Homo sapiens: one gene and its partners. The protein of the gene in region 4 interacts with the protein of the main gene of each other region in a biochemical or structural test. Each region holds a gene or a part of one and is shown on either strand. Other genes may lie near its edges.

What was found.
Region 1: the proteins of SMAD3 (region 4) and TRIM62 form a complex in vitro, tested with the Homo sapiens proteins (one study listed by BioGRID).
Region 2: the proteins of SMAD3 (region 4) and FOXM1 form a complex in vitro, tested with the Homo sapiens proteins (one study listed by BioGRID).
Region 3: the proteins of SMAD3 (region 4) and SKIL form a complex in vitro, tested with the Homo sapiens proteins (one study listed by BioGRID).
Region 5: the proteins of SMAD3 (region 4) and XPO6 form a complex in vitro, tested with the Homo sapiens proteins (one study listed by BioGRID).
Region 6: the proteins of SMAD3 (region 4) and EIF4B form a complex in vitro, tested with the Homo sapiens proteins (one study listed by BioGRID).
Region 7: the proteins of SMAD3 (region 4) and NFIA form a complex in vitro, tested with the Homo sapiens proteins (one study listed by BioGRID).

The regions. Positions count from the first base shown.
Region 1 is NC_000001.11:33,168,240-33,172,357, reverse strand, and holds part of TRIM62 (E3 ubiquitin-protein ligase TRIM62), read left to right. Parts: intron 1-4,118. UniProt on the Homo sapiens protein: E3 ubiquitin ligase that plays a role in antifungal immunity by mediating 'Lys-27'-linked ubiquitination of CARD9 downstream of C-type lectin receptors; leading to CARD9 activation, followed by activation of NF-kappa-B and MAP kinase p38 pathways.
Region 2 is NC_000012.12:2,867,008-2,871,125, forward strand, and holds part of FOXM1 (forkhead box protein M1), read right to left. Parts: intron 1,748-4,118; coding exon 1,556-1,747; coding exon of another isoform or gene 1,511-1,555; exon of another isoform or gene 1,207-1,510; intron 1-1,206. UniProt on the Homo sapiens protein: Transcription factor regulating the expression of cell cycle genes essential for DNA replication and mitosis. Plays a role in the control of cell proliferation. Also plays a role in DNA break repair, participating in the DNA damage checkpoint response.
Region 3 is NC_000003.12:170,363,925-170,368,042, forward strand, and holds part of SKIL (ski-like protein), read left to right. Parts: intron 1-4,118. UniProt on the Homo sapiens protein: May have regulatory role in cell division or differentiation in response to extracellular signals.
Region 4 is NC_000015.10:67,072,102-67,075,601, forward strand, and holds part of SMAD3 (mothers against decapentaplegic homolog 3), read left to right. Parts: intron 1-3,500. UniProt on the Homo sapiens protein: Receptor-regulated SMAD (R-SMAD) that is an intracellular signal transducer and transcriptional modulator activated by TGF-beta (transforming growth factor) and activin type 1 receptor kinases.
Region 5 is NC_000016.10:28,103,527-28,107,644, reverse strand, and holds part of XPO6 (exportin-6), read left to right. Parts: coding exon 1-123; intron 124-1,147; coding exon 1,148-1,262; intron 1,263-1,430; coding exon 1,431-1,602; intron 1,603-2,937; coding exon 2,938-3,099; intron 3,100-4,118. UniProt on the Homo sapiens protein: Mediates the nuclear export of actin and profilin-actin complexes in somatic cells.
Region 6 is NC_000012.12:53,016,112-53,020,229, forward strand, and holds part of EIF4B (eukaryotic translation initiation factor 4B), read left to right. Parts: intron 1-361; coding exon 362-499; intron 500-2,686; coding exon 2,687-2,895; intron 2,896-3,798; coding exon 3,799-3,915; intron 3,916-4,118. UniProt on the Homo sapiens protein: Required for the binding of mRNA to ribosomes. Functions in close association with EIF4-F and EIF4-A. Binds near the 5'-terminal cap of mRNA in presence of EIF-4F and ATP.
Region 7 is NC_000001.11:61,088,830-61,092,947, forward strand, and holds part of NFIA (nuclear factor 1 A-type), read left to right. Parts: intron 1-4,118.

The DNA of each region.
Region 1 (4,118 bases), on a different chromosome or scaffold from region 4:
ACCTGTTCTCCCCACCTGCAATGCCCTGGCCCATCCTGGAGACTTGAAGGAACCCTGGCCATCCATCTTCCTTTGTCCTTCCATCAGAAACAAACTCCTTCCTTGAAGCTCCCCCCGTTCTGAGTCCCAACTTTACATATAGTTACTATGATGATAATGACAACTAAGATTGATTGAGCTCACCCTGTACGTCATGTCAGGTCATGAATTAAGTCATTTCATTCCCAGAGCAAGCCTATGGAGCAGGTGCTGTTAGGCCTTACTTAATAGATTTGAGGTCCGGTGCCATGGCTGATGCCTGTAATCACAGCACTTTGGGAGGCCAAGGTAGGCAGATCACTTGAGGTCAGGAGTTCAAGACCAGCCTGACCAACATGGTGAAACCCCATCTCTACTAAAAATACAAAAATTAGCCAGGCGTGGTGTCGGGCGCCTATAATCCCAGCTACTCAGGAGGCTGAGGCAGGAGTATCACTTGAACCTGGGAGGCAGAGGTTGTAGTGAGCCAAGATCGCACCACTACACCCCAGACTGGGTTACAGAGCGAGATTCTGTCTCAAAAAAATAAAAAATAAAAATAAGACCTTACTTTACAGATTTGGAAACCAAGGTGGAGGGAGGGTGCTGTGAGCACAGCCAGGTGTTGTCAGCTGTTCTGGATCCTAGCAGGCCCTCCATGTTTATCCTGTTCTTCTTTGTATTTTACCTATTCAAGTTTCTTCCTCCTCGACTAACTGCAAATTTTTCAAGGACCATGTATAGGCCCACCCCTGGAGCGGCCAGCACAAAGCCTGACACTCATTGGGTACTCAGAAATTTTTGCTGCATTGATTTGCATGGGAGGTAGGGAGGCCAAGAGATTTTGAACATGGATTTTCGGAGCCACTGAGAGCCTCCCCTCTGCCTCTTACTAGCTGTGTGAACTTAGGCAAGCTGCCTAACCTCACTGAGCCTCAATTTCCCCCTCTGTGAGATGGACGCAATAAAGACACTACTAACCTTGTGGATTGTTGTGAGAATTAGGTGACAAGATGCCTGTGAAATTCAAACCCAAACCACATCCGCCTCCAGCCCCTCTGGTCCTGGGTCTCTGCCGTTACCAGTGTCCTTCCTCAGGGTTAAGCTGTATCACTTGAGAGTTTATCAGGCTCCAGTTTCCTGTGTGACCTCTCTGCTGGAGTAAAATTTCTAGTTTGTTCTCCTGTGTCAAGCTGTGTGGCCGTGGGCCAGTCAGTCCCTTCCCTTGGGCCTGTGTTTCCTGTCCTGGCAATCCAAGGGGTTGGACCAGATGGTCCCTGCAGCCTCTTCCTGCTCTGGCCATCTGAGAAGGGAAGGAGGGGCCACCTGGACACAGTGAGGGATGAAGACACAAAGAAGCGACTAGGGAGCCGCATACGGGACACAGTGACCGCTCTGTCTCCCGAGCACCCAGGGTGTGCCAGGCTCTGTGCCCTGTGAGGCTGAACACTTCTTACCATTGTCTCACTTTATCCTCCCAACCCTAGGAGATATGATTATCCCCATTTTTCAGACAAGGCACTGGGGCACAGAGAGGTTAGGTGACATCCTAGGGTCACACAGCCCAATGGGTGGTAGAGCCAGTCTTCTAACCAAGGAAGGAGACACGTTGGAGCGGGAGGGGTGACACAGCTCAGGCAGCCTTCTAAGTCCTACCTTCTGGACTCTAGGGTTTGGTTTTCCTAAGTTAGCTGTTTCTTTGGGCTCTGCACCTAGCCCATCCAAGGAACTCTGCCTGCTGGGGGCCTTCTCTCCCCTCCCACCCTTTCGAGGTGAACTCTGACTCAGCCTAGCCTCATCCTTGGGCAGGGACATCCTGAAGACTCAGCGAGGCCAGGGGTGTGTGGCCGTGTCCTAGGTACTGAGATTGTGAAAATCTCCCCTTTCCACAGTCCTTGCCCTCAAGAGCCCATAATCTAGTGGGGGAGATTTTTGTTGTTGTTGTTTTAAAGATGGGGTCTCGCTCTGTCACCCAGGCTGGAATGTACAATCTAGTAGGGGAGATTTTTTTTTTTTTTAAAGAGACTGGGCTGTGTCACCCAGGCTGGAGTGCAGTGGCACGATCTTGGCTCACTGCAACCTCCTGGGTTAAAGCGATTCTTGCTCCTCAGCCTCCCAAGTAGCTGGAATTACAGGCATCCACCACCATGCCTGGCTAATTTTTGTATTTTTAGTAGAGACGGGGTTTTGCCATGTTGGCCAGGCTGGTTTTGAACTTCTGACCTTAGGTGATCCAAAGGTCTCAGCCTCAGCCTCCCAAAGGGTTGGGATTACAGGTGTGAGCCACTGTGCCCGGCCTAGTAGGGGAGATTGACAGGTAACCTTGCAATTAAAATGCAGTGTGTGCCATCAGGGTACAAGTGTGGGACACTGTGCATGCAGAGTTTGAGACATGTACTCCCAGGGGAGGTGACATTTGATCTGGGTCTTGAGAGATGTGTAAAGGCCTGGAGAGCCCTGCGAGCTGCTCAGTGTGTCTGCAGCAGTACTGTCCACTAGAACTCTCTGGTAGAACGGGCAGTTCTGTGTCTGCACTGTCTGATACAGCAGCCCAGGTGGCTGGCAAGCACTTGAAATGTGGCCAGTGCAACCGAGGAGCTGAATTTTCCATTTTATTTCATTTTAATTAATTGCAATTTAAATAGCCACGTGTGTCGTATTGAACAGCACACGTCTGGACCAAGAGCTAGGACTGGAGAAGAAAAGGTTGGGGCCAGCAGTAGAGCCTTGAATGTCACCCTAAGGCTTTGTGCCTTTCTTCCCAGACAATGTGGAAATCTGCAGACTGGCACAATGGGGAGAGTGAGAGGGGGAAGCATTTATACATCTGCCCTTTAGAACAATCACTGCAGCTGCTGTGCAGGGCACTTGGAGCAGCAGGAGAGCTAGAGGCAGGGAGGAGCCTGGGGCCACAGCCCAGAAAAGAAGTGATAAAAACCGAACCAGAGGCAGCACGCATAGAGAGGAGAGAACAAATTCCAGAGCAAACCTAGTGACTGGATTGGTTTGGAGGCGGTAGGAATCAAGGATGACTCTCACTCCGAGGTTTCTGGCTGGGATGGAGTTAGGGGAGGGGTGCACTTCACTGAGATGGGGAATATGGGGAGAGGAGCAAGTTTGGGATCTCCTAACACGATCGCAGCATTCCCCATGATGTAAGTGTCTGTGTCCCTGACTGTCACCCCAACACATGCACACCTCGTGGCATCACGTTTAGGACTCACACCTCATCTCTCCCCATCCTTGACACAGCACCATGTGGGGCCCAAGGTCTCAACACATGTTTGTGGAATGGGCAAATGAGTGTTCTGATTCTCCCGGGATCCAGGAGGAAGGAGCAAGCCCGCTGTCCTTATTCCCTGACTGCAAAATCAGGGAGGAAATGTCCAGGTTTCTCAAGTGCCCTGAGCAATGTGAGGAAGGCAGACTCCAAGGCAGTTTCTCAGAAATCCTGAAGAGCTGCCTGGGTGGCTGGGTCTTCTGTGGACCCATGGGGGCCACCAGGGGGAGAATTGTAGCACTTGGCCCATCTCCTCAACATCTGCCTCTCAGCCACACTGTGTCCCAGGCTGGATAGCCCAAGGCTGTCAGAGGCACCTGAGGAGCGGTCTTTCTACTCTCTTAGGCAAACAAGATTCCTCTGCTCCGAGGACTGTATCCGCTCAAGCTGCACACGAATGTTAGGAATGACTTTCAGCTGTTAGTAACAGAGCCCTGGCTGAAGTAGCTGCAGTCAGATGGGGTGCGTTTCTCTCTCATGTAAGACAAGTCTCTAGGAAAGGACTCCAGGTGGGTGTGCTGCGGCAGGTTGCACTGGCTCCTGAGAGCTGATTGTGTGCATCTCATCCCAATGCCAAGTCCAACTACTACTTCACACTGATGGCTTGAAATCCACTTGAGTGGGAACATTTACACCATGGAAATTGGCACTGTTGGGGATTTAAAAAAAAAAGTTTTTCTCAGACAGCCAGCTTCCTAGCATGTCACTGAGTAAACCGATGGTGTGGCAGCCCCACAGTCATCAGGGACTCGGGCTCCTTCTTCCTTCTACTCTTCTGGTTTCAGCTTGTGACTTTGGTCTTTACAGTTGCCTCATGGCC
Region 2 (4,118 bases), on a different chromosome or scaffold from region 4:
CCAGGCATGGTGGCGCATGCCTTTAGTCCCAGCTACTCGGGAGGCTGAGGCAGGGGAATCACTTGAACCTGGGAGGCAGAGGTTGAAGTTAGCCAAGATCATGTCACTGCACTCCAGCCTGGGTGACAGAGTGAGGCCCCGTCTCAAACAAACAAACAAGAAACTAGGAAATTAAGGCTGGGTGTGGTGGCTCACGCCTGTAATCACAGTGCACTGAGAGGCTAAGGCAGGAGGAGTGCTTGAGACTAGGAGTTCAGACCAGCCTGGGCAACATAGTAACCAGCCTGGGCAACTGTCTCTACAAAAAAAAAATTAGCGGACTGTGGTGGTGCACCTGTTATCCCAGCTACTTGGGATGTTGAGGAGGGAAGAGCTTGAGCCCAGGGGGCTGAGGCTGCACTCCAGCCCAGGCAACAGGGTGAGACCCTGTCTCAAAAAACAAACAAACAAAAAACTAGGAAAGTAAGCTGATGGAAGGGAGTAAAATTAAAAGTTCTACCATGAATTAGCCAGGCGTAGTGGCGGGCGCCTGTAGTCCCAGCTACTCGGGAAGCTGAGGCAGGAGAATGGCGTGAACCCAGGAGGCGGAGCTTGCAGTGAGCCGAGATCGCGCCACTGCACTCCAGCCTGGGTGACAGAGCGAGACTCCATCTCAAAAAAAAAAAAAACATAGTTCTACCATGAGGGGCCAGGTGTGGTGGCTCATGCCTGTAATCCCAGCACTTTGGGAGGTCGAGACGGGTGGATCATTTGAGGTTAGGAGTTCGAGACCAGCCTGACCAACATGGTGAAACACTGTCTCTACTAAAAATACAAAAAAATTAGCCAGGCGTGGTGGCGCATGCCTGTAGTCCCAGCTACTCGGGAGGCTGAGGCAGGAGAATCGCTTGAACCTTGGAGGCGGAGGAGGTTGCAGTGACCTGAGATCTGCCATTGCACTCCAGCCTGGGTGACAGAGCGAGACTCTGTCTCAAAAAAAAAAAAAAAAAAAAGAAAGAGTTCTACCATGAGGAAAACAAAGCACACTTGACTTGGAATTGAGCACCCGTCAGAAGACCTCATTTGTGGCTCTGACACCGACCAACTGCGTGAGCTATGTTGACTCACAGGCATCTCGGTCTTTCCATGAATGAAGTGAAAGGAAAACCCCTGCCCACTAGAAATGCTATGTGACGCTACAGGAGATGACATCTTGGGTCATGAGGCTCACAGACAGCATTTTTTTTTTTAATCAAGACATTTTCATAAAACTACTTAGCCACTCTAGCTGCTGGCATCTAGGACGGCTGTTGAGTGTAGCAGAAAAGTGGGCTTGAGTGCTACATTGAAGACCCTCCATGGACTTTAGGTAGTAACACATGAAGTAGTTAAGGAGCTCTTCTTAATGATTTTGCCTGGATTCAATAAGATTGAGTCACAATCTAAAAGATACATTTGTTTATCATTCTAGTGTCCTTTGCACTTAACTGCTGTCCCAGATACAAGTTGCAGTACAGCACTGGAGAGACTGTCAGGCTGGGCTGACCTTGATTTTGGTTGCTGTGGGACACATTACCTTCCAGCCTGGCTTGGCAATGTGCTTAAAGTAGGGAAAGTGGTCCTCAATCCACGTATAGATGTCTTTCAAAGTCATGCGCTTCCTCTCAGTGCTGTTGATGGCGAATTGTATCATGGCCATGTAAGAGTAGGGTGGCCGCTCAGACACAGAGTTCTGCCAGGACGCTGATGGTCTCGAAGGCTCCTCAACCTGAGGGTTATGACACAGGGAATGACATGAAAGAGTTCATGAGAAGCACCCCCAACCCAAGCCCTTGAAGAACATCTAGAGAAACCTTTATCCCATAGGACGGTCTAGAAACAAACTCATCTGAGACCACTATCTCATAGAATAAAATTTTAGAGTTGGGAAGAATCTTGGAGATGATCTAGCCTAGACCCTAGCCAATAAGAAACTGGTTTTGTCATCCATCATTTTGTTGAATTTGGAGAAAATCCAGTCCCTTCCAGTTGAAATTTCTTAGGAAAGTTTGAGTATGTACTTTGATTCTCAAAGCATTGATGTTACACTAAAACCACGCCCGTTTTTCAGACTTTTGGGTCTAGAAACCTAGGTCTTAGTCCCATTTCTGTTCCTGATGTGCTGTGAATAAACGCATCTCATTTCAATGTTTGTATGAGAGAAACATTCTCAAGACTATGAGTCAGACAATGTCTGCAAAGCACACAGTTAGCTAAGTTTTAGGCAAAGAGCTGATCAATCACATTTCTTTTTCTTTTTTTGAGACAGGGTCTCACTGTGTCACCCAGGATAGCGTGCAGTGGCTGGATCACAGCTCACTGCAGCCTTGACCTTCCCAGGCTCAGGTGATCCTCCTGTCTCAGCCTCCAAGTAGCTGGGACTACAGGCATACACCACCACGCCCAGCTAATTTTTTTTTTTTTTTTGAGATGGAGTTTCACTCTTGTTGCCCAGGCTGGAGTACAATGGTACGATCTCGGCTCACTGCAACCTCTGCCTCCTGGGTTCAAGCGATTCTCCTGCTGCAGCCTCCCAAGTAGCTGAGATTACAGGTGCCTGCCACCACGCCCAGCTACTTTTTTTGTATTTTTAGTAGAGATGGGGTTTACCATATTGGCCAGGCTAGTCTCGAACTCCTGACCTCAGGTGATCCACCCACCTTGGCCTCCCAGAGTGATGGGATTACAGGCATGAGCCATTGCGCCTGGCGATTTTTTTTTTTTTTTTCGTATTTTTAGTAGTAGAGACCAGGATTTTGCTATGTTGCCCAGGCTGGCCTAGAACTTACGGGCTCAAGCAATCTGCCCACCTTGGCCTCCCAAAGTGCTGGGATTACAATTGTCAGCCGCTATGCCCGGTCTCATTCACATTTTTAAAATTGGAGATATTACTTTCTAAAGTACACAAATTTTATGTATATAGCACAATTAATATTTACTTACATATACACGCATGTAAATTTTCACTTTTTTTTTTTTTTTGAGACAGAGTTTCACTTTTGTTGCCCAGGTTGGAGTGTAATGGCACGATCTTGGCTCACCGCAAGCTCTGCCTCCTGGGTTCAAGTGATTCTCCTGCCTCAGCCTCCCGAGTAGCTGGGATTATAGGCATGTACTACTGCACCCAGCTAATTTTGTATTGCTAGTAGAGGCGGGGTCAGGCTGGTCTGGAACTCCCGACGTCAGGTGATCCACTCACCTTGGCCTCCCAAAGTGCTGTGATTACAAGCATGAGTTATCGCGCCTGGCCAAATTTTCACTTTTAAAGATTGTTGAGCTGGAGGCTATGATCCTAAGCGATTTAATGCAGGAACAGAAAACCAAATATTGCATGTTCTCACTTATAAGTAGGAACTAGGCTGGGTACGGTGGCTCACGCCTGTAATCCCAACACTTTGGGAGGCTGAGGCGGGTGGATGACGAGGTCAAGAGATTGAGACCATCCTGGCCACCATGGTGAAACCCCATCTCTACTAAAAATAAAAAAATTAGCCGGGCGTGGTGGCGGGCGCCTATAGTCCCAGCTACTCGGGAGGCTGAGGCAGGAGAATCACTTGAACCTGGGATGCAGAGGTTTCAGTGAGCAGAGATTGTGCCACTGCACTCCAGCCTGGCAACAAAGAGAGAATCCGTCTCAAAAAGAAAAAAAAAGAGGCCGGGCGCAGTGGCTCACGCCTGTAATCCCAGCACTTTGGAAGGCCAAGGCAGGTGGATCACGAGGTCAGGAGTTCAAGACCAGCCTGGCCAACATAGTGAAACCCCATCTCTACTAAAAATACAAAAATTAGCCGGGCGTGGCAGCGGGCACCTGTAATCCCAGCTACTCAGAAGTCTGAGGCAGGAGAATCACTTGACCTGGGAGGTGGAGGTAGCAGTGAGCTGAAATCGCAGCACTGCACTCCAGCCTAGGAGACAGAGAAAGACTACGTCTCAAAAAAAAAAAAAAAAAAAAAAAAAGCAGGAGCTAAACATTGAGCACACATGGATATGAAGAAGGGAACACTAGACACCAGGGCCTTCTTGAGGGTGGAGAGTGGGAGGAGGGGGAGACAGAAAAACTACCTAGCAGGTACTATACTCACTACCTGGGTGACAAAATC
Region 3 (4,118 bases), on a different chromosome or scaffold from region 4:
TATCTTGCCCCCAAGCTAATTAGGTGCTGTACTTTTTTTTTTGTAGAGACAAGTCTTGCTCTGTCGCCGAGGCTGGAGTGCAGTGGCACGATCTCGGCTCACTGCAACCTCTGCCTCCTGGGTTCAAGCAATTCTCCTGCCTCAGTCTTCCGAGTAGCTGGGACTTCAGGCGCCCACCGCCATGCCCAGCTAATTTCTTTTGTATTTTAGTAGAGAGGGGGTTTCACCATGTTGCCCAGGCTGGCCTCGAACTCCTGAGCTCAGGCAATGCGCCTGTCTCTGCCTCCCAAAATGCTAGGATTACAGGCGTGAGCCACCATGCCCAGTGGTGGTCTACTCTTACATGTCTGTTGGAGGCCACATTTGCCAGATATTGTTGCTCCCGTCTTTTTTTTTTTTTTTTTTTTTTTTTTTTTGAGACAGAGTTTCGCTCTTATTGCCCAGGCTGGAGTACAATGGCGCGATCTCAGTTCACTGCAATCTCCACCTCCCAGATTCAAGTGATTCTCCTGTCTCAGCCTCCCAAGTAGCCGGGGTTACAGGTGCCCACCACCATGCCTAGCTTGTTTTTTGTATTTTTAGTAGAGATGGGATTTTACAGCCTAGCCGGCTGGTCTTAACTCCTGACCTGAGGTGATCCGACCTCCTCGTCCTCTCAATTGCTGGGATTACAGGCATGAGCCATGGCGCCTGGCCCGCCCCAGTCTAATTATTAGTCTGACATAAGTGTATTTTGGATAAACTACTTTTCCTAATATTCTTGCTCTGTGTTTATGTGAAAAACATCTGAGAACCATGATAAAGGTTTAAAAAAAAAAAGATGATGGATTAATTTACTTAACTGAAACAATGTGCTGAGGTTTGGTTAACACTGAAACCATCCTTCGTCTGGGATGTAATCCCTTTTTGTCCCAGAATTCACTGATTTGAATACATTTTCGATTTTAGGAAGGTGTGAGTTTCTTTCTGATCTTTTTGCTGTGTTATATTTTGCAGTATTTGAATTAGTGTTTGTGGTGTATTTTGATATTGCTTGTAATTTTATGTGAATTTGAGAAATTTAAAGGAATTTAAGAAAATTTCAAACACCCATACTTTAAGAAAGATTCTTTTCTTTGGTTCATATTTAATACGTACTTGAGTGGTTGTTTTATTATGCTTACCACTTCACGTTTTAAAAACGTACTCAGAACATTGTGAAGTACACTTATTTTTTAGGGTCTGTGAGGAAGGTGAATGACAATATTTCCACCTCTTAGATGAGTCACATGCTCCTGGTTGTATAACCAGAATCAGGAGTTGAATACAGGGCTTCTAACTCGAAGTTTAGTAATTTTTCACTATTTGCCCCTGAAGCACATGTTAGTAGCAGAAACTGAATTTTGAGAAACATTAACTTTTCTTATCAATTTACCTTAGTACAGGTTGAGCATCCCAAATCCAAAATCTGAAATGCTCTAAAGGCCAAAACTTTTTGAATGCTGACATGGCACTCACAGGAAATGCTCATTGGAGTATTTCAGATTTTGATTTTTGGATTTGGGATGCTCAACTGCCATATCGTGCACATATTCCAGAATCTGAAAAAATCAGAAATTCAAAATACTTTTGGTCCCAAGCATTTCTGATAAGGGATATTCAGCCTCTATGATGGTTCTCAAACTCTGTTTTAACCTGCATATAAATTTAAATACTAAGGTATTTAACTGAGAATGAGATAGTCCTTGACTGAGGAACAGTTTTTATTTTCTTCTGTGAGTCATTGAGTTGGTTGCCAAACAAGCCAAATTGACCCAGAGGGAGCTCATTTTAAAAAGTCAAACTAGGCTTTTTTTTTTTTTTTTTTTTTGAGATGGAGTTTCGCTCTTGCGCCCAGGCTGGAGTGCAATGGCGCGATCTTGGCTCACTGCAACCTCCGCCTCCTGGATTCAAGCGATTCTCCTGCCTCAGCCTCCCAAGTAGCTGCAATTACAGGCGTCTGCCACCATACCCAGCTAATTTTTTTATTTTTAGTCCAGACGGGGTTTCACCATGCTGGCCAGGCTGATCTTGAACTCCTGACCTCAGATGATCCACCTGCCTCGGCCTCCCAAAGTGCTGGGATTACAGGCATGAGCCATTGCGCCTGGCCTTTTTTTTTTTTTTTTTTAAGACTGTACTAAATATATTAACGTGTTATGTAAAGGACCTGATGTTTGGTGTGAATACTGACATGATTTGACATGCGTATATAGTTTATGTAATCAAAGTATTGCTTTTGGATTAAAAAAAGTCCTGAAACTCAGTAAGTTGTTCGAAATGAAACAACTTAATTATTTTACAATTATAAAATATGTAATATATTAATACATTTTAATGTTAATAAGTTGTAGTATCTTGTAAATTATAAATAATTTGAAATGAGACAACTTAATTAAATATAGCTAATAACTCTTTCTTACTCAAGTCGCCATAAGAAATATACTTGATTTTAGGCCAGGCGCGGTGGCTCATGCCTGTAATCCCAGCACTTTGGGAGGCTGAGTTGGGTGGATCACCTGAGGTCAGGGGTTCGGGACCAGCCTGGCCAATATGGTGAAACGCCATCTCTACTGAAAATACAAAAGTTAGCAGGGGATGGTGACACACGCCTGTAATCCCAGCTACTTGGGAGGCTGAGGCAGGCTTGAACCCAGGAGGTGGAGGTTTCAGTGAGCCGAGTTCACACTGCCCTTCATCCTGGGTGACAGAGTGAAACTCTGTCTCAAAACACACACACACACACACACACAGACACACACACACACACACATACTTGATTTTAGATCTGCCTATGTTGTTCTACAGAATGTTGTCAAGTTACTTACCTGATACGAGCTTTTTGTGTTTTTTATTGGAATAATCATTATTTTACTTTAAACTGTATAAATACATGCAAACATCACATTCCTGATTCTTTTTCACATCTTCAGTGGATATTCAGCAAAATCAGAAGTAGATCAAATATATGTAAACAAAAATAGAAAATTAAAATAAATTTGATCTAATTCTAATTTTGTTGAATATTACGTTTGTATGAAAAAAAGATCAACAGGCAAATTAATCATTTGTAAATAAAATTTGAAGAGTAATGTTTACTTAAGATTATTTTCAAACATATTGGAAGTGGTCATTTGTTGTAGGTGATTCTTCACTTTTTTTGTTTGTTTGTTTGTTTTTTTTGAGACGAGAGTCTCGCTCTGTTGACCAGGCTGGAGTGCAGTGGCGCGATGTCAGCTCACTGCAAACTCCACCTCCCAGGTTCACGCCATTCTCCTGCCTCAGCCCCCTGAGTAGCTGGGACTACAGGTACCCATCACCACGCCTGGCTAATTTTTTCTATTTTTTTAGTAGAGACGGGGTTTCACCGTGTTAGCCAGGATGGTCTCGATCTCCTGACGTCGTCATCCTCCCAAAGTGCTAGGATTACAGGCGTGAGCCACTGCGCCTGGCCGATTCTTCCCTATTGTAGCATGTGGCTGACAGTCTCCACTTTACTAAGTTAAGAACTATATATACCCTTTTTTTTTTTTTTTAAATTGAGATGGAGTTTCGCCCTTGTTGCCCAGGCTGGAGTGCAATGGCGCAATCTTGGCTCACTGCAACTTCCGCCTCCCAGGTTCAAGCAATTCTCCTGCCTCAGTGTCCCTAGTAGCTGGGATTACAGGTGCCTGCCACCACACCCAGCTAATTTTTTGTATTTTTAGTAGAGATGGGGGTTTCACTATGTTGGCCAGGCTGGTCTCGAACTCCTGATCTCAGGCAATCCACCAGCCTCAGTCTCCCAAAGTGCTGGGATTACAGGCGTGAGCCACCGTGCCTGGCTAAAATTTAAACTTTTAACATTTAGACTGGACTACTCTTAGGTAAGTAAAATATTTTAGTTTTTAATCTACTTAGGGGGGAAAAATCTCTATAGATTACTTATGATACAAACAGATGACCTAAAGATAGCAACTTAAAAAATTTTTTTTCCCTGAAAGCGTATTAGCCGTTTGAGAGTTTAATTTTGCATTTTCGTTTCACTTCTTCATTTCTGTAGAGATCATTGGAGTAATAATAGTACAAAATATTTCTCCCCTCTTGCAAGCTTTTAATTA
Region 4 (3,500 bases):
TTCAAGCTTATCACATCAGGAATCCAACTAAATGAGTTAAAAAATAAATATTGGTTTAATAATGTAAACATGTGATTGCTGTATTATTATAATGGAATAAAATTAACACGATTTAATGAACTGAGCGACCATTAATTTTTACTTGTTAATTTATTAGGAGATTTTAATGCCATTTGATGCACAGTACAGCCATTATTCTGCGTGAGCTCCTTAATGAAATAAATAAGACCAAGCAGGGCTTGCTTCAAATTGGAATCAGCTTTCATTCCTGTTAACCTTATTCTCCCACCTTTATTCACCTCTCCTTCAGCTTCCTGTAATTGCAATTAAGTTCTCTAAGATTGGAATGCAGTTTTCTTAATCAGCAAGTCTCATCAATAGTCCTAATTGACTTTTGCCCTTTTCTCCTTTGCCATATTGACTGATTAAAACAAAAGCAAAACTTAAAGACTCCATTCCCTCCCCCAAATCCCCATCTCATAGTGTTGGTTGGCTGGCAAGAGAACTGCCCAAGAAGGCTGCTCATGATGGCAGCCTGCTGAATGTGCAGGGGGTGGAAGTTCACCAGCCATGTGCAGACGTGAATGGCTGGTGCAGTGTTGGATGGGACTAACTCCTCCCTAAGGAGGGGTATGACCTTCTGTTGGCCTCTGACAAGTCCCTGAGCCATGGAGCCTTCAGTCTTCCCATCTTCAAGCACAATGGTTCCTGGAAACAGTGGGAAGTTGCCATCCTAAGCCCACCCTACAGAAGTTTGGTTTCTAATTTTACTGTGTTCTAAGCTTTAGAACCGAGACAATTCCAAGAGAACTTGTCCAGTTCATTTTTATGCCTTCCTTTAATGCCGTACCAGGTGCTAATTTCTGTGCCAGATAATGCGGACAAAATAGTGAATAAGGCAGATACTGTCCCTGGTGCCTTCTGTAGCTTCTAGTCCACTGGCTGTGAAACACAGGTTCTTTGGAGTTGTAAGAATGCTGTATGTGTTCACTCTTTAGCTAATTTGTAAATACTGTTTTTTTGGTGCCAAACCACATCCCCCAAGCTCTGCAGTTTATTGACTTGACAAGGATCTCTCTCTCTCTTTCTCTTTCTCTCTGTATAACATAATCCTTTGTTTCGACTTAACAGTTTGAGAAATAAACAAATCTATAGCATACTATCCACTGTTGGTTATCTAAGACCCTTCCTATAAACAGCAGCCTGCCACAGTGGCAACTGCTGTAGAATGTTTTGGCAGAGACTCAGTTTAAAATGAAAACACAGTAGAAGCCTATTAATTAAGAAGTTTGGCTAATTCTGGACTAGGCAAAAGTTTGTTTAGCAGGCCTTTTTGCCCCATAAATGCTGTCAAAGAAAAATTAATAAACAAGAGTTTGGGGATTATTTTGGAGGTAGGAGTCAGCAGACCTTGGTAGGTTCTAGACGTGGCTCTGTTTCTGATTAGCTGTGTGACCTGGGACAAGTCACCTTCTTTGGGCCTCGAATGTTCTCAACTGGAAAATAGGCTAGATAAACTCTATTGGAGGGCCTTTCTAACTTGGAATTGGTATTCATACAAGCATTTTATTTTATTTTATTTTATTTTTTGAGATGGAGTTTCGCTCTTGTTGCCCAGGCTAAAGTGCAATGGCGCGGTCTTGCCTCACTGCAACCTCCGCTTCCCAGGTTCAAGTGATTGTCCTGCCTCAGCCTTCTGAGTAGCTGGGATTACAGGCATGTGCCACCACACCCGGCTAATTTTGTATTTTTATCAGAGACCAGTTTCGCCATGTTGGCCAGGCTGGTCTCCAACTCCTGGCCTCAAGTGATCTGCCCGCCTCGGCCTCCCAAAGTGCTGGGATTCCAGGCCTGAGCCACCGCGCCCGGCCACATACAAACATTTTAAAAGCTCCCAGTTGCACGCATCTAGTTGATCAGTGAATGACAGATCTTTCTTAATTATTGATGTTCCAAGACTCTATCAGCCTGGTGTCAATTAATTTACATAAGTAAAAATAATAAAATTGTAATTCAGCCTTTAATTTTGGTGATTTCCCTCCCTCTTCCTTGCCTCTTCCTTACTCTGTGAGTCTAAATCAGTGAAATTTAACTACAAAGGAATATGAAAATAATGCTAGGATGAAGATGTGGAGGCTGTGCCTCTTGAGATGCAGTGAACAGTTTTTCTTCTTTTGTTGCTATTTTTGACTATTCTAAGAACAGGAAGTTTACTTAAACTAATGACCACAGATGCCTAAAAATGGTTAAATGTAAGAGGTAGGCATTATAGAGGATACCTGTGGAAAATGTTTGCTCATATGTCAAAGTTTACCCAGGAAGCTTCCTTTATTTATTTCCAAGCATCTATATAAAGAAAGGCTGCACTTGATTGCGTAAGCATGAGCCTTTTGTTAGGCAGCGTGGATGTTGCAAGTTTAAACCCCAACTAGGAAATGAAAAGTGAGTTTCCTCCTAAATAGTTCTTTTTCAGTATCACATGGCTCTCCCAGCTTACATCTGGCAAGTTTTTCTCTTGAGTGCTTTGCCGGTAGTTTAGGACTCCAGTATTGTATTGTATTGTTTGTTTGTTTCTTTATCTCTGTCTCTCTCTTTTTTTGTTTTTTGAGACGGAGTCTTGCTGTGTCGCCCAGGCTGGAGTGCAGTGGCGTGATCTCAGCTCACTGCAACCTCCGCCTCCCAGGTTCAAGCAGTTCTCCTGCCTCAGCCTCCCATGTAGCTGGGACTACAGGCGCCCGCCACCATGCCCAGCTAATTTTTGTATTTTTAGTAGAGATGGGGTAGGACTCCAGTATTAAGAAACACTGTGTATGGCTTTGCCTTTGAAACCTACAGAGTTATGAATCTGGTCCCTTTTGCTGCTAAGTGTTGCATCACAAACTGCCAAGCCAAGTTGTAACTCTGAGGTGTCACCATTTTTTTTTTCTTTTCAACTGGACATTTGAAAATAGTAATGCTTTTTGGGTGTGTGTTTTTTAAAGGTCTGTTTTTACGCTGTCACTGCTCAAAAATGCCAAAAGGCATTTTTTCCTTAAAAAATCACCTCTGGGCTAAGCCCAAATGTGGAGTAATGAATCCAGAAAGGACTTTTTGAGTAGTTACAAGTGGCTGAAAGCAGGCACTGGTGATGGAAATTGGGTTTTTCCTTTTGCTTCAAATCTTCCTGGTTGTAAACTTTTTCTTACCCTTATTGAAGTCAGACTCAAGGTGGGTCTAATTTCTCCCAGCCCATGGGAAGGCAGAGTGAATTACTGCTTGTTGTGCCAACCCTTTACATTTTGTGTGTGGCTGTTTGTCTCTACCCAGACAGGTTCTTCACATATTACCTGGGGAGCAGGAGAGGGGGAGGACAGGAAGAGCACAGTTGGGCAGAAAGAGCAAAGCCTCTCAAGTCTGATGGGTTTGGGTTTGAGTCTGACAGTTATTAGCTATGTGGTGACCTTGGGTACTTTGCTTCAACTTATTGAGCCCCAGTTTCTGCATCTGTAAAATGAGGATGA
Region 5 (4,118 bases), on a different chromosome or scaffold from region 4:
TAGAAGATATTGTGGAGAATATCTCGGGGGAGTCCACCAAGTCTCGACAGATTTGCTACCAGTCGCTGCAGGAATCTGTTCAGGTCTCCCTGGCCCTCTTTCCAGCTTTTATCCATCAGTCAGGTAGGAGCTGGCCCAGAGGCCCCACTGGTGGGTGGTGCTAACAAGGGCCAGAATACCCACTTAGATCTGTAGAACACACTGAGTCGGTGCAGTACAGGCCTTGACTTGTTCCGTGCAACGAAACCCGGTACTGAGGGGAAAGGGCAGTGATGTTTATTTGTGGAGTCTAGGGCCAAGGCCCTTTGGAAAAGTGAGCAGAGCTCTCCATATGGGCCTTGGCACCTACAAGAGAAGGCAAGAGAGCTTTTTTGGCTTAGTTCTCCTTATTTTGTGGCAAGGTGCATTTGCCGAGATCGTTCCCCTCACCCTTGTCTGTCACTGTCAGTGATAGAGGGCCTCTCTAGCTCTGTGGATGTACTTGCCTAGCTCTCATGACAGCATTATAGTAGTCTTGTCAGTTTTACAAGAGAAATATCAGGCACTTCTCAGTCAGCAAATATTCATTGCCTCTTGCAAGCAGATTGCGTGCAGTTAGGGCTGAAACACACTACACAAGATGATTGTTGAGATCTGGAAGTGAAACTGCCCTATATGTAACCAGTATTTTCTGCAATTAATCCATTTAATGGACCAGGGCCATGCAACCTAAATACACCTTCATTATCCACTTTCAACCACTTAACCCCTGACCCAGCTGCAGGGATTATTAGTCATAGGGGGAAATGGCTTAAGCACTCAGGTGTTGACCCAGTTGGCATTCATCAGTGTGGGCACAAAGTGATCCCTCTCCAGTGAAACTCTGACCATCACTGGATGTCGGGCAATGAGGGAGGGTTCGAGATGACCTTCATTTCCTGTAGTGAGCCACCAGGTGGAGGTTCCCTATACCAGAACTATTTTCTCAGCATGTCCCTAATCGTTTTCCACTTTCCATCATTGGCCCTGATGGTGTTGGGGAAATGTTTCCAGCAGGAAGCTGTAGAGAAAGCTGATAGTGCAGATTTCAGGAGTAGGTTGATGAAGCCCAGGGTTCTGGTTCTCACTGTGTGCAAGCCTCTGACGATATCTCTGCCCCTTTCCTCAGATGTGACTGATGAGATGCTGAGCTTCTTCCTCACTCTGTTTCGAGGCCTTAGAGTACAGATGGGTGTGCCTTTCACTGAGCAAATCATACAGACTTTCCTCAACATGTTTACCAGGTAAGCACAGACCCACCATCTATAGTTTTCAGATTCAAGGGAGAAGTGGTGGGTCTGGCGACAAAGTGTGGCTTTTTGCTCCTGTTCTGCACTTGCCACAGCATGGGTTTTCATGCTGGCCCCCAGAGAAACATGTGGTTGCTCACTGTGTGGCTTTCTCCTCTGTAGAGAGCAGTTAGCCGAGAGCATCCTCCACGAGGGCAGCACAGGCTGCCGGGTGGTGGAGAAGTTTCTGAAGATCCTGCAGGTGGTGGTCCAGGAGCCAGGCCAGGTGTTCAAGCCCTTCCTCCCCAGCATCATCGCCCTGTGCATGGAGCAAGTGTATCCCATCATTGCCGAGGTAGGGGCTCAGACGGTCCCCTGTGCAGCACCCCCCATCTCCAGATTGGGAAGGGAATGAGATTTCACAGAAAATGTATTGTGTTTTAAAGTTCATTTGTTAGTTTAATATGCTTGTAAAGTAGTTTCTCCCAAGGAAGAAGGCCTTTAGTGGTGTGGTACAGTGTTTTTATATTGATTGAGTTCATTGGAGCTAGTCTAGTGTAAGCATGGCAGTTATTCCACAGGGTCAGTTGCTAAGATCAGTCTCCTGCGGCAAATTTTATACCTTTAAGAGACTCTGGTTTTCTATAGCAAACATTCTAACATATGTACTTTCCTATTAGAAACATTCATGGTCTCGAGGATACAAGGCAAGTTCTTGAAACCATTCAAACAAACCTTTCAGTGTTACAGGAAAGCCCTTTGTCCTTCTTAGAAAATAGGCAGGCACTCAGCATAATAAGACCCGGAATAAGTATAGATTTAATTTCAGTTTTTTTGGTAATAGTCGTATAAATAAGAGTTAATCTTTAACTGTCTGAACTGAGACTGGGACAGGTCTGGTTGCTGTGCATTACGAAATGCACTGGGCCTATGAGGCTTCTTCTGTGGATGCTTGTGGCCCCTGGTGTCTATTTAATTTTAATCAAGGCTGAACTGAATATATGTGGGCCTTCTAATTTTGAATTCTGCAGAGACATTTGGAATAAGGGATTGGGGGAGTTGGAGTCAATGAGAAAACACTGCTGAGCCTGACCCTTCTCCTCTAACTCCTCTCAGAATCCTGGCTACTGGGAAAGAGGAGACTGGCCCAGAGAGCCTGGCTCCCAAGTGTTCTTTAAACCCTCCCCTTCTGGGGAGCAGAATCGCTTTAAGGCGTTGGGTCTGTCTTTAGCCTCCGTGGTTGTGTAAGACCAACAGGTTAGTGGGACAGCATTTTTTATCCTGGGAAAAGGAACAAGCAAGAAGATCTGACAGGTCGAATAGAACAGGAAATCCATACTCCTAATTGTTCATCCACTTGGTAGCTTTTTTCTAGTGTAAAAGCTGAGTGCTCATCAGAAAAAGGGGCCCTTGGCACTGACCCGTGCATTCTCTCTCAAATGTGGGCCATGTCTCTCCTGAAGAACTCGCGGTGTGAACCGCCAACTCCAGGGGCTAGATGTCTTTTGCACAGGCAGTGACAGGACTCCAGGGGCTGGATGTCTTTTGCGCAGGTAGTGACAGGCATGTGGATGGAGTGTTGACACTCGGCTTGCTGTCACGAGGCGTCTCCTAGGCATCTTTGCTGCCCTGGGCCCAGGCCGGAGCAGCTCCGCAAGCTGCAGGTCTGAGCGTCTGTGTGTCTTTGCAGCGTCCCTCCCCTGATGTGAAGGCCGAGCTGTTTGAGCTCCTTTTCCGGACGCTCCATCACAACTGGAGGTACTTCTTCAAGTCCACCGTGCTGGCCAGTGTCCAGAGGGGGATCGCTGAGGAGCAGATGGAGAATGAGCCCCAGTTCAGTGCCATCATGCAGGTAACGTGGGGGCGGGGTTGCTGCCAGGTGACTTCCTCTAACCTGACCACTGCAGCGAGTCCTGTCTTCGAAGCCCCACAGTCTCGGGTCTGAAGCTCAGTTCTGCCTGTTAGTATTGATGAAGTTAATTAATTTCTTGGAGCCTCAGTTTCTTCATCTGCAAAGTGGAGCTAATGTTGCCTGGGTCACAGGTTTGTTGTGAGGTTAAATGAGATGACATACACAAAGTGCATGACACTTGGAGATGCTTGATAAACGTCAGTTCCGCTGACCTCATAGTGCTGTTTCCCCAAGTGTAAAGAGCCTGCCTATGCCAGAGTCACCGAGGGCCTTCTTAGCGGGGAGCTGCCTGAATATGAGTCTCCGCAGGAGGGCCCCAGACCTGCACTGTGATTCTGACTCTGACCATACTGGGAGAAACACTGCCCTGGGAGGGAGCATTCGCTTTCAGGGCAGATGCAGCTGTCCATTGGAGAGAGTGCACTGTCTGGGGGCTAAATACCCCTTGCTGTGGAAGACTGGGACGGCATCACCTCGCCCAGACAGCCAGCCTGCTCTGTGGCTGTGTCAGGCACGCTCCCAGGGTCTGCACTCAAGTGTCTGACGTTCTCATCTGAGTCTAGCTAGGGGAGTCTCTTTTGGTATTTTCAGTGCATGCTTTTCCTCATGGGGAAGCAAGAGGGATTTCCACCCTCCCTCCAGCTCCCTACTAGCACACAGCATGCACACAGGCATGCACGTGCGCATGCGCGCGCACACACACACATACTGACTCTTGTGTGGCAGTTCTTTTCAGGCACGTGCCCTTGCCCTGGCCTTCCCATCCCTGGCACCCACCGAGGCCTCAGGTCTGCAGTACTCAAGTGTTTGCGCCTCCCCTGCCTTTCTCTTGAACCCTGTCCTTGCCTGGAAGACTTCTTTGGCACGCTGGTGCCTGGTCCCCACTGAGGGCTGGTGAAAGGCACTTTGGAGAATAGTTTCACAGTTTGGCAGTTTCTTTTAAAGTTAAGTGTGTAGTT
Region 6 (4,118 bases), on a different chromosome or scaffold from region 4:
AGAGCAGTGAAAGTAGTAACTGAATAGAAGTAGTTACAAAATTAAAGATCTCAAATGATAAGTGAATATAGTAGAAAATAAAAGGTTGCCCCCACACTCCAAACATACTCTCCAGGGTGTATCTCAAACACTCAGACCCTTTTCCGTACGTAAACATGTGTTTACACATAATAGGTATTCTGCAACTTTTAAATTTCTTATTTATGTCTGCATAGTACCCCTTCATGGAAATGCCATAATTTAACCATTTGAGGAGCGTCCATGTTATTTCTTTCTAAATAATGTTTTACAATATTGCATTGTACAACTCTGTAAATACCTGAGTATTGGTGAATAATCTTTCTCTTGCCTTTTAAAACAGCAAAAAAGAAGAATAAGAAGGGGAAGACTATCTCCCTAACAGACTTTCTGGCTGAGGATGGGGGTACTGGTGGAGGAAGCACCTATGTTTCCAAACCAGTCAGCTGGGCTGATGAAACGGATGACCTGGAAGGAGATGGTAACTTTTCTTTTGTCATCGTGTTTGGAATGTTTATTATTTTCTAGACAAAACCTATTACATAATAATTCACATCGTTTGTAATCTGAAAAGAACTTACTCATTTTTTAGCACCTGAAATCTTACATATTTTATAGAATCTAAGGTTTAATCTGAGGTTTGGGCTGTCAGACTTTGCAGTGAAGACTGAAGTGGTCATTTAAGAGAGCTTTGCTAGTTCTTGTTCTTGCATTAACAGACTTCTTAAGTTACTATTCTTTTGGGCCTCATTTTCTTCATTTTAAAAGTAAGAACTAGATCATCTTTTAAAATTCCTTTTAGGTCTAAAATTCTATGGGGTCCTCATAAAGTGATGTTTCAGGCTGCTCGCGATGGCTTACACCTGTAATCCCAGCACTTTGGGAGGCCGAGGTGGGCAGATCACATGAGATGAGAAGTTCAAGACCAGCCTGGCCAACATGGTGAAAACCCATCTCTACTAAAAATACAAAAATTAGCTGGGCGTGGTGGCATGTGCCTGTAATTTCAGCTACTCGGGAGGCTGGGGCAGGAGAATTGCTTGAACCTGGGAGGCGGAGGGTGCAGTGAGCTGAGATCATGCCACTGCACTCCAGCGTGGGAGACAGAGCGAGACTCCATCTCAAAAAAAAAAAAAAAGTGATGTTTCAGTGTAATCTGTAAGCTATGTTTACTCAGAGCCAAGGAATAATTAGTTCCAGGTGTCATTAGTATAAAATCAGAGTGTCCTTGGGTAAACGAAAATGGTCTGAGGAAAAGGAGTGAGAACAGTAATTATGGTGGGAAAATAAAGAAGAGTCAATTGGACAAGTTCTGTGCCTTCAGGGAGTCGCCAGGAATAATAAGGAGCTATGTTTTATAATGACCGGGTATGACATAAATCTCATTACCATTGTTTTTTTCCTGAAAATCGTTTATTGCATGCTGAAAGAATATTTTTTCCTATGACCTGTTTTCATAATTCCTAAAAACAGGAAATTTTTTTTGAGACAGAGTCTCTATTGCCCAGGCTGGGGTGCAAGTGGCGCACTCTCTGCTCACTGCAACATCTGCTCCCGGGGTTCAAGCGATTCTCCTGCCTCAGCCGCCTGAGTAGTTGGGATTACAGGTGCCCGCCACCGCGCCCAGCAAATTTTGTATTTTTAGTAGAATCAGGGTTTTACCATTTTGGCCAGGCTGGTCTTGAACTCCTGACCTCATGACCCACCTGCCTCAGCCTCCCAAAGTGCTGGGATTACAGGCATGAGCCACTGCACCCGGCCAAAACAGGAAATTTTATATAGGTCGTACTTCCCATAGGTGTTGGTATCTGAAGTACAAATTCATGGACAGTGCTGTAGGAAAAGATTTTTGTTGTGATATTTTTGTTTGTTTGTTTTCAGATGGAGTCTCACTCTGTCGCCCAGGTTGTAGTGCAGTGGCACAATATCTTGGCCCACTGCAACTGCCGCCTCCCGGTTCAATAGATTGTCCTGTCTCAGCCTCCCAAGTAGATGGGATTACTGGCACATGCCACCACACCTGGCTAATTTTTGTATTTTTAGTAGAGACAGGGTTTCACCATAATGGTCAGGCTGGTCTCAAACCTGACCTCAGGTGATCACCCACCTTGGCCTCCCGAAGTGTTGGGATTATAGGTGTGAGCCACCGAGCCAGGCCTGTTGTTGTTTTTAAGGGAGGATAGACCATGCAGAAAAATACTCAACTTCAAACTCACCACTAGGAATACAAGAGTTGTCAGTAGTGGTTAAATATACCTGGAGTAAGAGGGACCCAGGTTTGAATCCTAGCTTTACCGTCTGTGACCTTGGGCAAATTACTGTCTGAAATCTGAGTTTGCTTTTCTGTAGAATGGGGGACAACCTCACAGGACTGTTAAAAAGATAAGATGGGATATAATGAATATAAAGTAGCTGGCACACAGTAATATTCCATAAAGAGTTGTATTTATGGAATAATATTTCTTTGCTTACATAAAGATTAAGGTGTCATAATTAATCTCAGAAGCTTCTCTTCGTAAAGTGCCCTTATTACTGAACCCCCACTTTTTTTGGTCTGGTTTTCTTGTATAGCATGTTTAATATTTGGCAATTAACATGGGTCCTCTTGTTCTATGACAGTAGTGAGAGAAGTTTCTTCTAATTTCTTACATTCATTCCTCTATCCTAGTTTCGACCACTTGGCACAGTAACGATGACGATGTGTATAGGGCGCCTCCAATTGACCGTTCCATCCTTCCCACTGCTCCACGGGCTGCTCGGGAACCCAATATCGACCGGAGCCGTCTTCCCAAATCGCCACCCTACACTGCTTTTCTAGGAAACCTACCCTATGATGTTACAGAAGAGTCAATTAAGGAATTCTTTCGAGGATTAAATGTAAGTGTAAAAGTTGTAATAATTAACTAGATATTGAGGATAATGTCTAAAAAAGACTAATTGTGGAATGGGCAGTTGCTGTTGAAAAAACAACTAGAAATATAATTTAAGGCCGGGAATGGTGGCTCACGCCTGTAATCCCAGCACTCTGGGAGTCTGAGGCGGGTGGATCATTTGAGGTCAGGAATTCGAGTCCAGCCTGGCTAACGTGGTGAGACCCTGTCTCTACTAAGAATACAAAAATTAGCTGGGCGTGGTGGTACACGTCTGTAATCCCAGCTACTTGGGAGGCTGAGGTAGGAGAATTGCTTGAACCTGGAAGACGGAGGTTGTGGTGAGCCGAGATTGCGCCATTGCACTCCAGCCTGGGCAACAAGAGTGAAACACCATCTCAAAGAAAAAAAATAAAATCAAAATTATATATATATATATTTTTTTTTTTTCTTTTTTTTTTTTTTTTTTTTTTTTGAGACAGAGTCTCATTCTGTCATCCAGGCTGGAGTACAGTGGATTACATGCCCAGCTAATTTTTTGTATTTAGTAGAGATAGGGTTGCACTATGTTGGTCAGGCTGGTCTTGAACTCCTGACCTCAGAGGATCCACCTGCTTCGGCCTCCCAAAGTGCTGGGACTACAGGCATGAGCCACTGCACCTGGCCTGAATTAATCTTTTTTTTTTTTTTTTTAGAGTTAAATTCATACAGTTCAAAATTCAGAAGGTATAATAGGGCATTTAGTAAAGTTTCTACTATCCCTCTGCATCAGTTTTCCTCCTGAGACAACCATGTTCTTGTGTATTCAGAAAAATTCATGCACATACAGTAATGCTTTTGTAGTCCTCTCAAAAAATGACAAATGAAGAAGAATGCTGGGAAACTTTGTTGTTGATTCTTATTCCTTCAGATCAGTGCAGTGCGTTTACCACGTGAACCCAGCAATCCAGAGAGGTTGAAAGGTTTTGGTTATGCTGAATTTGAGGACCTGGATTCCCTGCTCAGTGCCCTGAGTCTCAATGAAGAGGTAAAGAAAATAAGAGTGGGGATATGAGGGGTGTAAGTTCACAAATCTCATGTTTATTGATCAAACTGGTATTTTTTAGGTTGAGAGGCTCACTTCAAAGATTCCCATATCTACAAATAAAGGCCTGCATTATTTAACAGTGTATCACTTAACATCGAACATCTAGCAAGTCACACTTCAGCAAATTCAGTAGGCCCCAATAA
Region 7 (4,118 bases), on a different chromosome or scaffold from region 4:
CCTTCATTCAGGTGAAAAAGCATAGCTTTGAGCGAATTCTCACTAAGTTCAGCTCTTTTGGTAAGTAGTGTTTTCAGAGGCGTTGGTAATCAGATATGTGATATGTTTAAATCACATTTTTTGATGAGGGGATGAGAGAAGCCTCGTGAAAACCCTTTTAATAAAGAGTATATTTTAACTGACAAATGATCTAGTTTAAAAGCATTTATTTTGGTATTGAGGCAATATTTTTAGTTGGTTTTCTGCTGGGAGTGTTTTTAACCTACTGAGGCCTCTTGAACCCCTTGCCAATTAAGAAGTTGGAGGTAGATTACTATCAAATTGCTGATCATTTAGGAAGGAAAAATAATCACATTAATACGCAGACTTAGTAGCTTTGTATTTAGGAATTCTTAGTGTTGTCTCAGATAGCTAAGGGAAACAAACCAGCTCTTTCAGTAATTGATGGAGAGGTTAATATTAAAAATAACCAACCTGTATATTGCATGAACACATTGAAAAATTGCTATTGATAATTGATGTAGTGAGTTGCTTTGATTGTAAAATCTTAAATTTTTTTTCTGTTTTTTCAAGGCATGTCTTACCTGTGCATGTTTCAGTGTTTAGAATAGCATGCAGGATAAAACTATTGAGGACTGGATAAAATAATGCATTTTTACTTTGTTCCTTTCGTCTTGTTTTAGACAAAAGGCTCATTGTGCTATGTGAACGCTCAGGTCTTGTGTAACTTGTTGACTTTATATATGTACATATCGGTCTTGCTAGATTACCTTCATGGCAGTTACTTGAGCCAGATGGAAGAAAGAGGGTTGTGGAATCCTACCAGTAGGTTGTTTTGGGGTTCAAATATTTAACGTTTTTTTTTCTTTTTTTTTTTTTTTTTTTACAAAGGAGAGATGTTACCTGTAAAAACACTGCACTTTTCTTCAAAACATTTTTAATTCTAAAAATGTTAGTGAGTTTTTAAAGAAGCCAGCTGATAGCCTGTTCTCTATTATTTTTCTCAATATATGTTTTAGAAAGAGAACTTTTGTTATCCATCTGCCCTTACATAAGAAACTGGAGAAATTAGCTTTGCAAGCATGTCACATCATCATTTGCATTCTGTTGGCAGGGGATAGATGAGTATTTTAGAGGATGTGAGCTGTAAGTGTTTCAAATATTTGGGTTTTCAAAAATGTATACTTAATTATAAGAATTGCCTTTTGCTTTAGCCAATTCTGGGTAGCAAGAATGAAAAGTCAGCACCTCTCAAGTGACCTCTAAGCAGGAATAAGTAGCCCTTTTTTAACCCACTCTTAACCCTGTTGTTGTTCATTTGTTTTGTTTACTGAAAAAGTAAAGTTAAAATTTTTAAAAAATGTGTCTGCATATGTTAAGCACAGCAAAACGCAAAAAAAGTATAGGTGTTACAGGTGCTTTCAAGAAGCACTCTTTAAAATCTTGTTTTTACCTTTTAGATATTTAGAAAAATATAACCTATAAATTATCCCGAATAGATGACCAACATCGAAACTTGAAAGTGCCAACAGGTGATGCAGATCATGATGTGTGCTTCCATATAAGATAACATCAAAATGAAATACCTGTGAAGTTTTTGTCGGTGTAAGCAGTGTCCATTCTAAGTTTTCGTCTTAAACATTTCTCTGTTATTTAAAGAAATGCAATCTTTTCGCTGTTCTCATTACGTGCCTTCTTTTTCGTCGTTGGTTTGTTACTGTGCTATTGCTCCCAATCCTTGAACTAACACAGTTGTTGGTTGTTGCAATGCCTGAAGGGGTTATGTTGGTAAAATGACATTTAGAAGGTTACTTAGGAGAGTTAGCATCCTTATTGCTTATGAAAGATTTATTGACAGCAGCATAGATCAGACTACTCTTCGGTTTGGTTTTCCTGATGTATCCCAGAATCCCTTGTTATGCCTGAATGCCAGCCAAATGTTTGGCCATTGGTTTTCACGGGACCGCAGTAATGGCTGCTTCTCTGTGCGCGCAACAGGAAGACTGTAAAAGAAAATATTAAGGGTCTTTTGTCTGAAAATATTTCAAATTTGATTTAAGAGATTCAGAGACCTGTTATTTGTGGAAGGGAAGCTGCCAATACAAATATGAGGTAGATCGGTCAACTTACATACAACTGATTTGACAAGCATCTGTTATAATACTGAAGATTTGTAAACACTAAACAATGTTTTTACCTCCTTAAAAGTTTTGAGAACTTGCCAGTATTGGCAGGAGGCAGAGACTCTGAAACGTGCTTCAAGATACATGCCAAAACCATTGTGGCCTTTTCACCTATAATGCGTTTTTTCTCGCTCTTTCTTTTAAATTGTTATATTTTTTTCCTTTCCAGAATGCCTTTTTTTCCCCCTAGATGGTCATAGAAATTAGATCTTCTTTTCCTTCTGAAATTTGTGTGTAATAATTCTTGCTTTATGTGTCCACCTTTCTTTGGTAGGAAGTTGAAATCTCAGAACATACGTGAGAATACTAGAAGCAAATGCAGAATCAATCTTTTTTTTTTTAAAGCGGAGGTGATTTATTCTAAGACTTATTGACATGCTAAAATATAATACATAAACTACATTCCAGTTTTTTCCCTCTAAATCCAGTGGCATTAGAACTGTGAATTTTGTGGCTGATAAGCAGTAACAAGTGTAATGAAATTGGAGTGATTTCATAAGCCTGAGAATTTCATCTTGTTAAAAGAACAAAACCATTTTATGCCCTTAATTTGGTCTCAATTTGAGTTGTCCTTCCCATGTATCATATGACAACTTGGGGATACTATGGTATTGTGGCAAATGGTTTTCTTTGTGGGTGTGTAACAGTAAAGCTAATTTATGACCAGTCTTTACCAGATGATCTGTATCAGAATCTACAATATACCCGGCACGTGGCAAGGTCACAATTTAAGTTGTTAAGGTCATAACCTTAGCCACCAGGCATTTGACCTTTTAGATAAAGTTAACCTTTGTTCATTAGTAGGCACTCAACCGAGAAGTTTCTGGAGAGTTGTTGTTTTTTTTTTTTTAACCACTTCTGTATAAACTTCTGGTAATGTAATCAGATTCTAGAAAGATTCTCAGTCAAATTAGTTAGATTTTGTGAAAGGTTATACTTTTTAAGGACTCATTTCTTGGATAGAGGCAGGTTGCTATTTTTAGGCCATAGAATGACAGTTTCACAATTTATATTTGATATTATTACCTGCCATGGGGTAGAATAAAAGCTTGGAGGCAGCTGTGTGGGGACATTTAAAATCTAAAATTAAACAAATTAATTTATGTTTAATTCAACTAAGGCCTTTGCTAATTTTCAAGTGACATTAGGCCTAAAAGCTAAATCACAGTGAGCCATCTTCACTTTTTGCAGATGAGGAATTTTCTAACATTAGAAGTATTTTTAGCAGTCTTAAAATTCAGTTTGAAAGATTAATAAGTGACCACAATTTGTCAGGTAATTGCTTTAATTGTTAATTAGCCAGTGACAAAGCAAGTTGCTGTTGTCCTAATGGCAGCAGTATGAGTACTTGTTAGTTTTAAGGTAGAAAGAGAACACTTTTGCACGGTAATCTTTTAGTGCAGTAGTTACTGATTGCTTCCATGCTGCTACCATTATTACCTTTACTTAATTTTGCTTGCATCAGGAATAGCAAAGATCCTTTCAATCACTGAAGGAGCTGTTTCAGTGTCTCGGAAGCCTGATACCTGTCCTATAAACCTACTCAACAGTATTACTGATTACCACATTACCTGTACCATATTGTTCACTTAATTATGCTGACATGAATGCTCATTTCAAATTATTTAGATTCTTGCTAGTTTTGTTCTGCTGTACCTCATATTATTCCATTTCAGCCAAAAGAGAGCTACTCCCATTCAGGTGCATTTTAGTTTTATTTTGGCTTCGTGATTGCCATTCCTTCATATAGTAATAGAGAAAGCCGTGATATGCAGATAGACCAGATGGTCATGTTGACAGATTGAGAATTCACTTCCTACTGCTTCAGAGCAGGTGTAAGATTAGGAGTGTCTGTGTAGGGGCGTGTGTGTGCTTCGTGTGCATGTGCGTGCACATCCAGGCTGCACAGAGTGCTGTTTGAGCAATGGGAATGAT